Linked DNA regions of Homo sapiens: regions 1, 2 and 3 are each linked to region 4. Evidence: fine-mapped expression QTL. A gene starts in region 4. Each other region holds a variant in brackets. All regions are shown on one strand. Distances are from middle to middle. Region 1 has its middle 21 kb from the start of LRPAP1. Region 2 overlaps LRPAP1 (LDL receptor related protein associated protein 1). Region 3 has its middle 33 kb from the start of LRPAP1. Region 4 holds the start of LRPAP1 (LDL receptor related protein associated protein 1).

Evidence for each region. PIP is the estimated chance that this variant, and not a neighbour inherited with it, causes the effect.
Region 1: its variant is the best candidate, but not a certain one, in a credible set for the expression of LRPAP1 in whole blood (INTERVAL, PIP 0.66).
Region 2: its variant is the best candidate, but not a certain one, in a credible set for the expression of LRPAP1 in sun-exposed skin (GTEx, PIP 0.56).
Region 3: its variant is the best candidate, but not a certain one, in a credible set for the expression of LRPAP1 in activated CD8 T cells (Schmiedel 2018, PIP 0.81).

Annotation. Positions count from the first base shown.
Region 1 is chr4:3,551,615-3,555,772 of GRCh38, reverse strand. No RefSeq gene overlaps it. Among named protein-coding and RNA genes, the nearest start is that of LRPAP1, 21 kb to the right of the region's middle. The variant T/C (reference allele first, on the strand shown) is at 1,945.
Region 2 is chr4:3,502,907-3,507,064 of GRCh38, reverse strand. LRPAP1 (LDL receptor related protein associated protein 1) reads left to right here. Exons shown (of 8, transcript NM_002337.4): 8 at 1-3,453. Among named protein-coding and RNA genes, the nearest start is that of LRPAP1, 27 kb to the left of the region's middle. The variant A/G (reference allele first, on the strand shown) is at 1,981.
Region 3 is chr4:3,497,237-3,501,394 of GRCh38, reverse strand. It overlaps a transcript of DOK7 not described here. Among named protein-coding and RNA genes, the nearest start is that of LRPAP1, 33 kb to the left of the region's middle. The variant C/A (reference allele first, on the strand shown) is at 2,248.
Region 4 is chr4:3,530,010-3,534,167 of GRCh38, reverse strand. It overlaps LRPAP1 (LDL receptor related protein associated protein 1), which reads left to right and starts at 1,746. Exons shown (of 8, transcript NM_002337.4): 1 at 1,746-1,959. The coding sequence starts at 1,756. RefSeq lists silencers at 1,507-1,566, 2,007-2,256 and an enhancer at 1,757-1,966.

The DNA.
Region 1 (4,158 bases), 22 kb before region 4:
GCAGAGTCAGGCCGCACTGGCCCGCCCCAGCTCTCAGAGGCCGGCCATCACTGTGCACCCACACACCACCAGCTGTAACCCAGGCACAGGACCTCAAGGTGGGCTGGCTCAGCTGCCAACAGGAGCGAGTGGTGCTGAGGTCCTCCCAGGAGCCGTGGCCCAGCACCTCCTGGCCGGAACAACCATCCTATTCAAATAAACGAGTAACAAGAATGGGCACGCTCTCCACTTCCAAAAGCAATGCTGGCCGGGCGCAGTGGCTCACGCCTGAAATCCCAATGCCAGAGGCGTGTGAACCAGAGCAACTCCATCTTGAACAGGAGCTGGGTAAAATGAGGCTGAGACCTGCCGGGCTGCATTCCCAGGAGGTTAGGCATTCTAAGTCACAGGATGAGATAGGAGGTCGGCACAAGATACAGGTCATGAAGACCTTGCTCATAAAGGAGGTTGCAGTAAAGAAGCCGGCCAAAGCCCACCAAAACCAAGGCGGCCACGAGAGTGACCTCTGATTGTCCTCACGGCTCATTATATGCCAATTAGAATGCATTAGCTGCTAAAAGACACCCCCACCAGCACCATGACAGCTTACAGATGCCATGGCAATGTCTGGAGGTTACCTTATAAGGTCTCAAAAGGGAGGGGAGGAGACCTCAGATCCTCTTCATCCCTTTACTTTCCTGATAAACTTGCTCTCACTTTACTCCGTGAACTCGCTCCAAAGTCTTTCTCGCATGAGATCAAAGAGACCTCTCTTGGGGTCTGGATCAGAGCCCCCCCTTTTCCAGTAACACCAGCACTTTGTGGGAAAGACAGAGGCGGGAGGATTGAGTGAGGCCAGGAGTTCAAGATCAGCCTGGCCAACATAAGGAGACCTAAGTGTCTAACTTAAAAAAAAAAAAAAGGCCAGGCACAGTGGCTCACGCCCAATACTTTGGGAGACCAAGGTGGGCAGATCACTTGAGCCCAGCAGTTCGAGACCAGCCTGGACAACATCGTGAAACCTTGTCTCTACAAAAAAAAAAATAATAATAATACTAAGAAATTCCCGGGCACGATAGTGTGCACCTGTAGTCCCAGCTATTCAGAAGGCTGAGATGGGAGAATCGCTTGAGCCCAGGAGGTAGAAATTGCAGTGAGCTGAGATTGTGCCACTGCATTCCAGCCTGGGTGACAGAGGGAGACCCTCTCTCAAAAAAATAAAAAAAGAAACCCAGGCAGGCATGGTGGCATGCACCTATAGTCCCCAGCTGCTCCGGAGGCAGAGGCAGCAGAATTGCTCGAGTGCAGGCTGTAGGTCAAGGCTCTAGTGAGTTACGATTGTGCCACCGCACTCCAGCCTGCGTCACAGAGCAAGCTGCAGTCTTAAAAAATAAAAATAAAAAATAAAAGCAGTGCTATTCTCCTACAAATGAAGAAATCTCATCAGACAAATACTGCCACAAACCAGATGAAAATCATGATCTAATATTCCAACAAGAACTTCAGCTCCGAAGGGAGACTACAGCACAGAATAAGAACAGAGGAGAATAAGCACAGAATAAGAACGCAGGGAAGAGGTGGCCAAACGGCAGCGGAGTCTGTGGTAGGAAATGACAGAATTCAGGAAGGAAACTGAAGAAAAAGACAAAACCATTTCAGAAATGAAGAAATGAAGTTACAGGTAATACGAGAGCAGAGACACCACGAAAATCATGTAAAAAAGGAAAAAGTGAGCAAATGGAAAGAAAGAGGAAAGAGATTAAAAAGGATTAGAGAGAAAGTGACTATAAAAGACCAGTAAAGGGCCGGGCGCGGTGGCTCCCGCCTGTAATCCGAGCTCCGAGCTCTTTGGGAGGCAAGACAGTTGGATCACAAGGTCAGGAGTTCAAGACCAGCCTTGCCAAGATGGTGAAACCCCGTCTCTACTAAAAATACAAAAATTAGCCGGGCATGGTGATGTGTGCC[T/C]GTAATCCCAGCTACTCGGGAGGCTGAGGCAGGAGTATCACTTGAACCCAGGAGGCAGAGGTTGCAGTGAGCTGAGACTGTGCCATTACACTCCAGCCTGGCAACAGAGCGAGACTCTGTCTCAAAAAAAAAAAAAAAAAAAAAAAAAAAACAGTAAAGGGGCTCCAGCGTACACATACGATAGGCAAAACTAACAGATCAGAACAATTGACTACTTGATTTATGTGAGAGATGATCTCATATAAGCTAGCGTTGCCCAGGCTGGCCTTGAACTTCTGGCCTCCTGAGTAGCTGGGACCACAGGTGTGCACCACAGCACCTGATGAACAAGGATTGAAACTATCATTCAAGACCTCTTTTATTGAAATGCAGGCAGACTTGCGCCTGCCTGTAAAAGTGCATGCTGTATACTTGTGTGTGTTGGCCCAGAACAGTCAACACAAAACATGCCTTTGTAAAATCACTGGACTTTGAAGATAAAGAAATAATCCTTTAGGCAGCCAGACAGAAAGACCAAGTATCTTATAAAGCAAAGAAAACCAACTTGACATCAGACTTCTCCAAAGTGACATTCAATACCAGAAGAAAAAAGAAGCAATGCCTCCTTATCTAGAATTTGTGGGTAGAATTCTGTCCCCCAGAAAGATATGTTACACTTTGGGAAATTGAGGCAAGTGGATCACTTGAGATCAGGAGTTCGAGACCAGCCTGGCCAACATGGTGAAACCCTAGCTCTAATAAAAATACAAAAATTAGCCAGGCATGGTGGGGTGGGTGGGGGCGCCTGTAATTCTAGCTACTCAGGAGGCTGAGGCAAGAGAATTTCTTGAACCCAGGAGGTGGAGGTTGCAGTGAGCCGAGATCGCGCCACTGCACTCCAGCCTGTGCGACAGAGCAAGACTCTGTCTCAAAAAAATAATAAAAATTTTAAAAGATATGTTAAAGCCTCAACCCCTGGTACCTATGAATGCAACCGTTTTGGAAATAGGGCCTTTGCAGATATAATCAAGTGAAGTCGCAGTCACACCTGATTGGAGTGGGCCCTGATTCAATACAACTCACCTCCTTATAAGAAGACAAAAAAGGCCTGGTGTGGTGGCTCATGCCTGTAATCCCAGCACTTTGGGAGGCCAAGGTGAGTGGAGCACTTGAGGTCAGGAGTTCGAGACCAGCCTGGCCAACATGGTGAAATCCCATCTCTACTAAAAACACAAAAATTAGCCAGTCATGGTGGCGGGCACTTGTAATCCCAGCTCTTTGGGAGGCTGAGGCAGGAGAATGGCGTGAACCCGGGAGGCGGAGCATGCAGTGAGCAGAGATCATGCCACTGCACTCCAGCCTGGGCGACGGGGCAAGACTCTGTCTCAAAAAAAATAAAAAATAAAAAATAGAAGATGATTCGGCTTATGATTCTGGAGGATGGGAAGTCCAAGTTTGAGGGGCTGCATCTGGTGAGGGCCTTCCTGCTGTGTCATCACATGGCAGAAGGCATCACATGGCAAGAGAGTGTGAGAGAGTGAGAGAACACATGCCCAGCCTCGAGGCCTTTTGTTACCTGCATGGATCATCCATGGATCATCCTAAACACCTCCCCTTAGGCCCTACCTCCCAACACTGTTGCATTGAGGACTGAGTTTCCAACACGTGTTTTTAGAGGGACACATTCAAATCACAGCTTCCCCCCTCCACCACCCATTTTAATCCTGGGCTTTGCCTGGCTCCAATTCCTCTCTTATGTAAAGCAATGGATCAGACACACAGCCTTGGGGGATCTGTGAGAACTGAAGGGACTGGGGCCTCTCTCACACAGAACCCCAAAACCCTCCCATGCCTCCAGGACCCCCAGCAGGGAAGAACCCCACCTAACTCAGGGCCCAATCAGAGGCAGGGCCAAGGGTTATCCCTGCCCTCAGACTGGTTTTCCCAGGCTAGGGTCTGAGAACCCCGAGCAGCCAGTCCTTCTTCCCATGGGATGCGACTGGGCAGGGCCAGTGAAGGAACCCAGAGGCATGTTAGTCAAAGTGGGTTTCAGTCTCTGGGTGAGGGGTCCTGCATGGTGAGAAGCTGGGCCCACCTCCCACAGAGCCCACAGAACAGACTCAAACTCAGACACCAACAAGAAGATGCCAAGGCTGGGGAGGGCAGGCCCAGCCCGCAGAGTTCCTGCAAGGACTCTTCCCTGGCTGTGGTCGGAGCAGCTGCTCAGGAAATCCC
Region 2 (4,158 bases), 27 kb after region 4:
AGGTTTTTTTTATAGAGACTGGGTCTCGCTGTGTTGCCCAGGCTGGTCTCGGAGTCCTGGTCTCAAGTGATTCACCTGCCTCCACCTCGCGGAGTGCCAGGATTACAGGTGGCGGGAGCCGCCACACCCAGCCTGGTCTTAGCGTTATTCCCAGGTCTAGGTGTGAGTCCTTCCTCAGATATGTGTTGTGAATAATTTCCGATCCTCTGGCTTGCTATTTTACTTTCTTAATGGTTATCTTTTGGAAAGCAAAGGTTTCCAGTTTGATGAAATCTAATTTTTATTTTTTATTTTTCCGTTCTAGTGGTCTTTCTATTTTCTCATCAAATTGAGACTTTGGGGAAACTACACAGCAGCAAACCAGGATATATCCTCTTAAAAACAGCTCGAGCCGGCCGGGTGCGGTGGCTCATGCCTGGAATCCCAGCACTTTGGGAGGTGGAGGTGGGCGGATCACGTGAGGTCAGGAGTTTGAGACCAGCCTGGCCAACATGGTGAAACCCCATCTCTACTAAAAATAAAAAATTAGCCAGGCATGGTGGCAGGCACCTGTAATCCCAGCTACTTGGGAGGCTGAGGCAGGAGAATGGCTTGAACCTGGGAGGCAGAGGTTGCAGTGAGCCGAGATCGCGCCATTGCACTCCGGCCTGGGGACAAGAGCAAGACTTCGCCTCAAAAAAAAAAAAAAACCCAGCTTGAGCCAAGTGTGGGTGGCTCCCGCCTGGAATCCCAGCACTTTGGGAGGCTGAGGCGGGCAGATCACTTGAGGCCAGGAGTTTGAGACCAGCCTGGCCAACATCACAAAATCCCATCTCTACTAAAAATACAAAAATTAACCAGGAGTGGTGGCAGCATCTGCCTATAATCCCAGCTACTCGGGAGCCTAAGGCACGAGAATCACTTGAAGCTGGGAGACAGAGTTTGCAGTGAGCCAAAATCGTGCCATTGCTCTCCAGCATGGATAACAGAGCAAGACTCTGTCTCAAAAAAAAAAAGCTTGAAAATTTAAAAATATCTCAATAATTATGAGATGCAGTGATTTTTTTTTTACTTCCCTAAGCTGGGTTTCCAGGTATCTCTAGGTTCAGCTCCTCCGGGGCTGGAAGTACATGAAGGGCAGCATTGCCCACCTTGACCAGAGCAGGCTCGGAGCAGGGCAGTGGAAGAGCTGGTCCCAGCTCAGCCCAGCCTGCTGGGTCAGCATCCATCTGAAAGGTCATCTCTACCCAGGAACTTGATGGCTTCCAGCTCCACCCTAACAGAAACCTCCCCAGCATCTTGCCGAGTTGTAATCCAGGGTGGTGGTATAGACGGTCTTGGGGTAGCTGGTATAGACGGTCTTGGCGTAGCTGGTATAGACGGTCTTGGGGTAGCTGGTATAGACGGTCTTGGGGTAGCTGGTATAGACGGTCTTGGGGTAGCTGGTATAGACGGGCTTGGGGTAGCTGGTAGTGGTGCTCAGGAGGCGTGTGGGCTGCTGGTGCAGCTGGAAGCGCACCTCAGCCATGGTGTTGTGCCAGGTGTGGTTGGGGATGCAGGGGACGTTCCGGCCGCAGGAGGCCCCTGCCAGGCACAGGCAGCTGCGCGGTGTGGAAGAAGTGCCGCTCGGAGTCATGCTTGACAAGGAAGTACACCTTACTCCTCTCAGTGGTGAGGGGTCAAACCACTCCTTCCCAGCGATGGGGCCAGCAGCCTGGCGAGGGCTAGGCACCGGGGAGGGATGCTGGATTTGGAGCTGGGGGGAAGGGGTCACCCTGCATTGGGCTCCAGTGCTCCGGGTGCCATGCCTGCTCCCCCACCACTGCCACCGCAGCCGCTGCGGGACACCAGGGGCTGGGGCTGAAGAGCAGCCTCGAGCTGGGCTGTCCAGGACACGGTCGCCCTTCTTCCTCGTGTCCGTGAGCTCAGGCACAACCTGCAGCTTAGCCAGCCCACTATGGCTGCGTGCGTGGCAGGACCCGGGCCACCATGGCTGCGTGC[A/G]TGGTAGGGCACATGATTATTTTAGCCTCTGGTATCACTAACCATCCCTAAAGTCTCCAATGGTCTGTTCCTGTCTTTCCCTCTGGTTCACTTGTGGGGTCATGTTGTCTTCTGTTCTTTGTTATTTATTTTTTTCTTGAGACGGAGTCTTGCTCTGTCGCCCAGGCTGGAGTGCGTTGGTGCGATCTCGGCTCACTGCAACCTCTGCCTCCCAGGTTCATGCGATTCCCCTGCCTCAGCCTCCCAAGTAGCTGGGATTATGGGCACCTGCCACCATACCCAGCTAATTTTTCTGTGTGTGTGTGTGTTTTGTTTTTTGGTTTTTTTTTTTTTTTTTTTGAGATGGAATCTCAATTGCTCAGGCTGCAGTGCAATGGCGCAATCTTGGCTCACTGCAACCTCCACCTCCTGGGTTCAAGAAATTCTCCTGCCTCAGCCTCGCAAGTAGCTGGGATTACAGGCCCCTACCACCACAGTGGGCTAATGTTTGTATTTTTAGTAGAGACAGGGTTTCACCATGTTGGCCAGGCTGGTCTCGAACTCCTGACCTCAGGCAATCCGCCCACCTCGGCCTCCCAAAGTGCTGGGATTGTAGGCATGAGCCACCATGCCTGGCCTAATTTTTCTGTTTTTAGTAGAGACAGGACTTCACCATGTTGGCCAGGCTGGTCTCAAATTCCTGACCTCAAGTGATGTGCCCACCTCGGCTGCCCAAAGTGCTGGGATTACAGGCATGAGCTTCTGTGCCCGGCCTGAACTGTTAAGTGTTTGTGAAGAATTATTTGGGGGCCTATTTGAGAGCTGTTATATGGATCATCCTCCTGGAGAGGGTTCTTAAGCCTCTGAGACCGGGTTTGGGGCTGAGGCTTTCTGACCCACACAAGTCATGCTGACCCCTGAAGGGCCGCAGGCCAGATCTTGCCAGGTGAGCACTTTCCCCGCTCACATTCAGGATAGGGCGAGGGGGTTGGTACCGATTCACCCTCAGGGCCTAGATTTGGGGGCTTCAGCTTGCTGCAGATAGGTGCTCCCTTCACTCTCACCTGAGGCTGGGCTGGAGCCTGGTGTCTGCCCCACCCTGCTGGTCAGCCCCCTAGGACCTGAGCCCCGTAAGCCTGGACTGGCCACGCCCTGGGGCAGCAGCACTGGGTGCTTGGCGCTCACGACCTTCCTGGGCCCCTGGGTCCCTCACTTCTCCCTTGTTTCTACCTTCCTGGCTTGTCAGATTCCCACAGCTCTTAAGGAGAAATTCAGTATTTACTGCAGCATGTGTTTTCAGTGTGATGGTTCATCTAGGTACCCTAGCCTGTCATTGCTGGAGTTGGAAATCTCTGTTGTCTGCTGTTGTTTTGTGAAACAAGCGCGTGAGGTTATAAGTTTCCCTCAACGTACCACACTAACCACATTTCCCTAAGTTTTGATGTGTAGTGTTTTCACTGCCATTCAGTTCAAAATATTTTCTCATTTCAAGTATGATGTCTTCTTTGATCCATGTGTATTTTTAAGTTGCTAAGTGTACTTACTTTGGCCGGGCATGGTGGCTTACGCATGTAATCCCAACACTTTAGGAAACTGCGGGGGGGAAGGATCACTTGAACGCAGGAGGCTGAGGCTGCACGTCACAGGGAGAGACGGGCCGCGGTGATGTACGAGCTTCCTGTTGATAGGCAGTTAAGTTGGTTCGGGATAACGTGGCCTGCCTGGCACGGGTATTCCCAGAGTCACAGATGCTCACCCGTGCCAGCGTTGGCTGCTTGGGACATGGGGACGGCGAGGTCCCCACACCCCACATGTGAGCTGCTGGTAGCTGGGCTGAGCCCAGGTCCCATCCGTGTGTGGGGCGTGAGTGTGCGGTGCCATCGGGTCTGCACGGGCCTCGCCTCGTCCCGGACGCTCCAGGCTTCCTGTGGCACGGGTGCCGAGAGGGACCAGCCTGGGCCTGCTGAACCGAGGGGGTGGTCTAGGGCAGAGGCTCCTGCTCTGACAAAAGGGAAGGTGAAAGGCAGGAGCACCAGGAGGGGCAGCACGAGGACAGGGCGTGGGGTGGCAGCCGAATGGGTGGTGTGGCTCGAGGGCAGTGGGCCAAGGCCGGGGCAGTCTCAGGCCCAGGGATGGAAGCCCCATGCGGGCACAGGTTGGAGTCCAGGGTGCCCGAGACACGATGGCCCGTGTGCTCCA
Region 3 (4,158 bases), 33 kb after region 4:
GGTGGCGGTGGCCCAGGCAGGACAGCCGGGAGGCGGGGAGGGGATTCCGGGAGTGTCTGAGCCGCCAGTCTCAGGAGCGGGCATGGTGCCGACAGTGGGAGCGGGCACTGGGTCCTGGCTCTGCAGGGCCACAACACCCAGGTGAAGGGATGAGCATTTTGCCAGGACACGGCTGTCATCCATGCAGTCACCCCCAGGGTGAGAGGGCGGTTTGCATCCCAGGCACCACAAACCATGCTCCCAAACTCCTGGGCAGCAGCCTCTGCCTGAGATGCCACAGCAGCTACCAGAGCTGCCTGATGCCTGGAAGCAGGGCCTCAGTCAGCCTGGGGTCCAGAGCAACTCTTTCAGGCCGAAGGGTCAGCCCCGGACACCTGTGAGGCAGGAGGCCTGGCCGTGGGCCCTGAAAACTTCCTGTTTGCACCATGGCCCGGAGACCGGCCATGCCTGCTCCTGCGACTGGGAGCTCCCTGGGGACCAGACCACGCCCAACAGAAGGGGCTGGCCTGCCGGGGGCCACGGGGCCGCACAGCGCACCGGGTTTGCGGTCAGCTCCTGGCGCTGTGACCTCACTGCGGGGCTGCCTTCCTCTGCTCCAGCTCCGACAGCTGCTCCTCCCGGGCCCGTGCGTGCCGCACCCCCACTCTGTGCGCCGTCTCGGTGGCCATGATGTCGATCTGGGCGTAGAGGGAGGCGCCAGCCCCTGAAAGAATTCTGTAGTGAGCGGCAGCCTGCGCCCCGAGCCACCCAGCCCTGTGACCCTGCCCTCCACACCAGTCCCCCAGCCAGGCCCTCGGAAGCATCTGAGTGGGGACACCCTCAGGGGATGTGGCCTGGCCAGGGATGGAGTTGGGGACATTTGCCTCCTGGGGGGAGGCTGTAGGAAAAGCTCCCTGGCCAAGGGCTGCTGGGTGGGGCTGGGGGCTCAGGGCCCTGAGGCTGTGGTCCCAGCCCCCAATTGTCAGTGCCTCCACGCAGGGCGGGGACCCACCTCGGACACCCTCGCTGGCCTCCTGGAGCTCCAGGCCCATGTAGTGCAGCTGCTTTCTGGAGGATGGGCTGACGGGGATGTTCACGTAAGTGGGCGACTCGCCGCGCGGCCTCTCTGGTCCTGGGCTGTCCACAGCCACGGGTCCTGGGGATCCTGTGGGGGGAGCGGCTGTGAAGCCCCGGTGGGGACCGAGAGGGGCACAGATCTCAAAGATTGTGCAGTAAAGAGCTGCCCACCCTGCCTAGCCCCTCCTCCCCACTCCGCCTCTCCTGCACCTTGGAAGTTCCCGCTCCATGTTCCTGACCGTCCATCTTTGGCCCAGCGCTGCCCCATCCTGAGGCCCCCCCCACACTGTCCACTCCTGGTCCAAGTACCCACAGAGCAGAAGGAAGCGCTGTCCCCTCCACTGTGCCGCCTCCCCTGCAGGAATTGCCGACCCCCCCATGGGCCCCCCAAGGCCCACTCTTCTGTCCCTGCGCCCCTCGCCCCGCACCTTCCCAACTCTCTCCACCAACCGCCCCTCCTTGGCTGTCCCAGCACCTTCTCTACCTAACCCTCCCGGGCCAGCACAGCCCTGCTTTGTCCTGGCCCCCAGCACCTCCCCCTCACTGTCCTCCGGGGTCACCCCCACCTGCTGCAGGCTCCAGGGACCCCCTCCTCTCCTGCACACAGGCCCACGCTCCCTCTGCATCCCCTCCAGGACACCCAGGTGCCCCACACCCTCTCCCCCCTCATAGGAGCTACTCCCTTCCCCCGACCCCCTTCCTAATAGCTGATGGTTCTGTCTGCACACCCCATTGGTGCTGGGGAGGGCAGAGCAGGAGCAGGATAGGAGGGGACCCCACAGGCCCGGCTGGGTGGGACTTGAGGCAGGCTCCCACCTTAGGGGGTTGGACGCACACCGGCCCCTCCTCTGCAGGCCTGAGGGCTCCGCACCGTGGGCACCCAGGTTCTACAGGAAGGACCCCGTTCTCCAGTGCCTCCTCCCATTCTTGTCATCAGGACCTCGTGAGGGAACGCACAGCCACGTGAGGCAGGGGAGGTGACAGCAAGTCCCCCCCCATTCCCTGAGCCAGTGGCTGGGAGACACAGCCAAGCCCCACCCACAGTGACCTCCCCACCCCCAGCACACTCCGAGCCCTCAGAATTCAGGTGGGGGCTGGGATCCAGCGGGTGACAGCCCTGCAGGGTCGGCCTCCCTGAAACACCTGCCTGTCCAGGGGAGGGGCCTGACTCAAGGCTGGGCCTCCCTGCCC[C/A]AGGGATGCATCCTCAGCAGACCAGGTTCTCCTGTGGCCACCCGCTGCCCGGCACCTGCCGCAGACATCCACTCTGCCTGGCTCCTCTCACCCTTGTCCCCGTCACTCCCTGCAGCAGGGCTAGGGGTGAGGAACTTTCACTTGCTTGCTCCCAGTGGGGAAACTGAGGCCAGGGAGACCTGACTCGCTGATTCTGCAGGCAGCAGCTGGGACAGAGCGAGATGGAGCCCAGGTCGACGAGGGTTCGCTCACCTGATTCCATGAACTAAAGCAACCAACACAATTCTGCCCCAACCCTGCCTGGCCCTGAGGCCCTGGGGAGACCCCCCTCCTGCAAATGTGTGGTCCTAGAGGGCTGGTCCCCTCGGAATGCCAGGACCCCTTCATCGAGATGAGCCACAGAACATAGCGGCCAAGTTCTGGTGCCCAGGCAGGCACCTGGGCCAGCAGGGACAGGGCCAGCAGGGCCAGCTGCCTAGAGGAGGGGGCATGGCTGAGGGGCTAGGCCAAGAGGGGGTGGTGGGAGAGGCAGGTGGGGTGAGGGCCTGGGGAGAGCTGAGGGAGCGCCGGGGCCTGGCGTCTGGAAAGGGGGCCTTGAAGCCAAGGGGCAGGGCCGGGGCTTGCCCACGGTGGGGCTGGACACCCCCCTGCAGCCTGGTACCTCGTTTTAGGATTGCATCCGTTCTTCCAAGTTTGCTCCCAAGGTTGGGCGGTGAGGGGTGAGGGTGGAAGCAGGAAGGAGCATGAGGCCTGACTGCAGGGAAAGGGGACGAATGTTCCCAACACCACCCGGAGTCACACGGGGGCTGTAAGCAGCGCTGGGCCAGCAGTGTGTCCGTATCTGTATCTCCCCCAAGGCCACTGGCTCCAGGGCCCTCAGTGCTCCTCCTCCCGTCCCCTCCTTGGGACTTGGATTTTGCTTCGGCTTCTGTGAGCATCGCTTCCAGTACCTCGGATACTCTTTCAGTGAAGCAGCAACCGGGAATCGGCTGGCCCTTCTGCACTCTCCTCCCAGACCCCGCCCTGGGCTGGCAGCCCGACGCTACCACTTGGGCCTGGCTCATCTCTGTCCCATGACAGACCCCAGGCGCCCCTCCTGAGCCCCCGGCCTCTGTGGAAAAGATTCACATCCTCCAGCAGATACTGGGCCTGTCCCCTTGATCCCCACACCTGTGTCCCAGGGCACCCCTGTCTGGGTAAAAGACATCTGAAGGGTACGGGTGGCCTCGGGGAGGCAACAGCAGGCTGCCCAGGAGGACCCTTGGGGCAGGGCTGGCCCCACCACCTCTGGTCTGGTGGCTGCCTCAGCACACTGGACTGCAGGGATCGGTGTCCAGCCCAGGGCCAAGGCAGACTGGTGGGGGCTTTCCCAAGCTGCCCCTGCCTGCCTGTGGCTCCGCCCCCATCCCTGACTGTCCCCTCCAGGCCTGCCTGGGCGCCTCCCCCACCCTGGGTGTCCTCTCCAGGCCTGCCTGGACCCCGCCCCCCTGTAGGTGCCACCTGCCTGGGAAGAAGGGATTGAGGAATCCAAGGTTTAGCCCGCAGTGGCTCCTACTCCACAAGGAAACAGGCACAGAACTGGCCCTGATGCCACCCATCTACCCCAGGCCAGCCGTCCTCATCTCCAGCCTCTCAGCCCTGCCCAACCTTCAGCAGGGCTCTGTCCCCAGTGACTGCCAGGCTTCTCTAGGGAGACCCTGGGGATCCGTACCTTCCCACTGCCTCCCTGCCTGGCCCTCCCTCCCAACCTGGCCCCAAAACTGCACCTGCCAGGGCACCAATGCCCTGCCCTTCGCCGAGTCGCTCACCACCAGCCCAGCCTCCACAGGCCCCCACCGCTGTCTGAGGACACAGCCCCTCCTCCCTGAGCTGGGGCTCCTGGACCCCAACCCTGACTGCCTTCCTGCCATG
Region 4 (4,158 bases):
GGTCAGGGCAAAACATGTATGTGGGGTAAAACAGGTGACCTCTGATTCTAGGCACCAGGAGATGGAGAGAAGAGCAGGAACGAGGGAACACAAGGGGAAGGCAGGCACAGGTGAGAATCTAGGCCAGGCTCACCTGGCCATTCTGTCCTGAGGCTTAAAAACATGCAATGATGGCAATGACAGCATTTGATCTGTCTCTGGAGTCACTTCGCATGAGGTCATTCTCCCTCCACCACCCTCCTGGGGGATTCCTTTACCTCCTCTCCCCCATACATCCCATATTGGGAACTTGTGCTTCCAGCTAAGATGCAGTAACAGACTGAATTTACCCTCTTGCCTGAAACAACTCAACAGCTGGAAAAAAAGAAATGAAACGATGGCTCTGAAAATACTAGAAAAGCAGCACAGGACAGAAGCAGATCACCTTGATTCCAGGGACCTGAAATCTTCTCTGGAACAACACAAGATACAATTTAAATGTAAATTAGGGTAGGCCCAGTGGCCCACGCCTGTAATCCCAGCACTTTGGGGGACCAAGACGGGAGGGTTGCTTGAGCCCAGGAGTTGGAGAACAGCCTGGACAACATAGGGAGACCTAATTTCTACCAAAAAATTTCAAAAATTAGCTGGGCGTGGTGACACGCACCTATAGTTCCAGCTACTTGGGAGGCTGAGGCAGGAGGATCGCTTTAGCCCAGGAGGTCGAGGCTGCAGTGAGCCATGATCATGCCACTGCACTCCAGCCTCGATGACAGAGACCCTATCCCCCCACGCAAAAAAAGGAAATGAATTAACATTAATTCCTCTCAAGATGCCCAGGCTCTATTCACCCCCTTTGTCATTGTCCCTCCAGTTGGAAATTCCTCCCTCCCCCCGCAAAATCCCGCCCACCCTTGGAGGCCTTTTCAGATCATTCTTGCCAGATGAGCTCCCCTTGTCCCTTCTCTGAGCCCAAAGGGGCCCAGCTGCTGTCTGTCTCCCTCCTTCCCCTTGTTTCCCGCGCTACCTCCAGGGCACTTCCCAACTCACTGGCCAAGCCCCCAACGAGCGGTCTATGCTAACTTTGGCTCTGTGAATTTCCTAGAGTGTCATGGGTTGGGGAAAAGCGCGCGAAGTCCTGCCTTGCAGCAGGCGCGAGAGCAGGCGCTTGGGACGCGGGTTGGGGCAGGGGCCCCGGGACGTAGGGGGACGTCTGCGCGGCCCTGCGTCCCCGGGACAACCTGGCCTGGGCTTACCCACGGCCAGGCGCTCCGCGGAGGGCAGAAGCGGGCTGGGCCAGGCTCCTCAGCGCCAGGCCCGGGCCGCAGTGCCAACCCCGCAACGGCACTGGACATGCAAGAGTCGGCGTCAGTGCGCGTGAAGCCGGAGCATTATCAGGCTCAGCCAAACGCGGCCCGGTTCTTGGGCTTTCCGCTCTTTCTGTGGGGCAGAGAGGGAAAGAGGCCTCGAGTCGTGCGGGCTCCAGGCTCCGGGCTCTGGGTGAGGCCTGATCCCTGCTCCCACCCGGCCACCCTCATTCTCCAGTTGTATCCCCTGCCAGAGTCTGCAGCCTCGGGCCGCGGCGTGGTTGCCTGGGAAACGCTTGCGCCTGCGCAGGGCTTCCTAGGCGCTGGAGTCCGCCGGCGGCCTCGCCGCTGCCGGCCGCTCACGGAGGAACTACAATTCCCAGGAGACCGCGCGGTGGGTGGGGGCGGGGTAGTGGGCGGGGCATCGGCAGGCTAGGTTTTCTCCGCGCAGCGCCAGTCGCAGAGGAAGATGGCGCCGCGGAGGGTCAGGTCGTTTCTGCGCGGGCTCCCGGCGCTGCTACTGCTGCTGCTCTTCCTCGGGCCCTGGCCCGCTGCGAGCCACGGCGGCAAGTACTCGCGGGAGAAGAACCAGCCCAAGCCGTCCCCGAAACGCGAGTCCGGAGAGGAGTTCCGCATGGAGAAGTTGAACCAGCTGTGGGAGAAGGCCCAGCGAGTGAGCGCGGCCCGCGGTCGGTGGAGCGGGGCCTGGGGGCGGGGGCCGTGGTTGGGGTCGTTGGAGCGGGGCCCAGGGGTCGGAGGCGGAGGGGGGCGCAGCCGGGGCACCTGTGCCCTACGCGCCCTGTCCTTGGCACAGCCTCCCCCAAGTGTCAGGTGGGGCGCCCCGACCCCTTCTGCAGCAGGAAAGGTACCCGTGCCGGCGACGACGCCGTGTGAAGCAGGTGGCGGCCGGCACCCCGAGGGTCAGTGTCGCCCTCCCCAGCCTGGGCGGCCTGCTGACCCGAGCGTAGGGACAGAACCAGGCTAGATCACAGGTCTCCTGCCTCCCGAGCCTTTGCCTGTTCCCTCAACCTTATCTCCCTATGTGGGGAAACAAGAAAAACAAAATGTTGGGTAGAAAGACGTGTCCAGGGACAGAAGGAATCCCAGTAGCAAGCCCGTGCTTGTTCATTTGAGCGAGAAATGAGGAGGTGAGGAGATGGGATCGGTTTAGAGCACATAAAACGCGACCTTGGGAATGCTGAAAGTCAGTCTTAACAGGGCGCTCACCTGACCTCTCCTTCATTTGAGAGATGAGGGTACGGAGGCCCCGAGGGGAAAGGGCACCCCCAAGGTGGCTCGGCCGGTGGGGCCCCCCGGGACAACAGCTTCCTAATTGGTGCGTGACCCTGGGCCAGCTGCTCTCTTCATTAAGATACGGTTGCTTCATTTGTTAGGTGTTCCTGAAAACACCTGAAATGGGTGTTTTCGAACTATGCCGACCATCTGGGCCTCATTATCTCATCTCAAATGCAGGAGTCAGATTAGATCTCTGTCTCAATAGTCCAGTTTTAAGCATTCCTGAGTCTTTGAGAGGGAAAGTAAGTGATTTGCAGAATAAGAAGGAACTTTTGGAACGAAAAGGGAGAGGAGAAACAGGTGGGGGACAGACAGACGACAGACGGTTATAAGACTGCGTGGGGATGGGGATTGACGCCTGGGCATCAGCTCCACAGGCCCTTCCTGAACTGCTCCTGGGACCAGCAGTCAAGCCCCAGGCGTAATGTTCAGCCTGCGGAGGTGGGAGGTGGGAGAACGCTCTGGGCTGGAGCGGCAGGGCGGCTTCTTGGAGGAAGGGATTCTGGAGGGGCTGGGGACACGGCTGGGTTTGGATGTGTTGATGGCCTCCCAGCAGCAGGGAACAGGTGTGACCAGGAGCAGCCGGGATGCAGTGCTGCCTCCCCGTGCCCACTGCACTGGGCATCTGTTGAGTGGGTGGAGTCCCCCCTCCCCATGAGGAATGGGGAGCCCGAAATAGACTCCCTGACCGATTGGAGGTGGCGCTGAGGAAGTGCACTCGGACCCAGGAACCCCAGCGGCTCCCTTTTGGGTGCTGGCCCAAGTCTTCCACCTGCTCTGCAGGGCCGCCCTGGTGCGCTCCACCTTACCTCCAGCCACCTCCAGCTGGTCCTCTGTCTTTGTCAGCCCAGGCCTCCTGCAGCAATACACCTGCCCTCAGGCTGCCCCTGCACTGGTCCAGCTACCCTCGGGCTGCCCCTGCACTGTCCCCCGGTGCTGGGTGCTCGCCTGACCAGTTTCAGTCTTGGGTTGGGTCATGTCTCCTAAACCTCCCTGAGGTTCACTGGGCACCATGGTAGGGCGAGCTGCTCACCTCCACTTTGGACTGAGCCTTGGACTAGATGATCTTTCTGGTCCCTTTAAGTCCTGAAGTTCTAGTTGTGTGGGCAAGTCTTTTTTGCTGAACAGAACGTGAAGTTCTTCGGGGGTGAGGGTGTTTTGGGGGATTTTGTGTGTCTTCCCCCATTCCAGAGAGCCTGGTACTATGGCAGGCAGGCCTGCAGAGCCCATTCGTCCTGATTTTCCTTCCAGATAACGGAAGCTTGGAGGGTGGCGGTGCTGTGAGGGTGTTCTATCCTGGAGCCAAGTGTGCAGGCGTCAGACCCGTCCGGGTCTTTTTGAGGTTCTCAGTGGCGGTAGTGCATCCCGGGTGGTCTTTGTGCTGTGGCTCTTTCTGCCGAGCGTGCCAGGGCCCAGGGTGGTCAGGAGGCAGGAGGAGCCACAGTCAGTTCAAACGTAGGGGGAGAGAATTGTTCGTGCAAATAGTCACTCCAGTCGGCTTCTTACCCCACCTGACTCGCCGCTCTAGGTAGGTATCAGACGGAGACGGGGTCTTGGATCGCCCCCTGGAAGATAA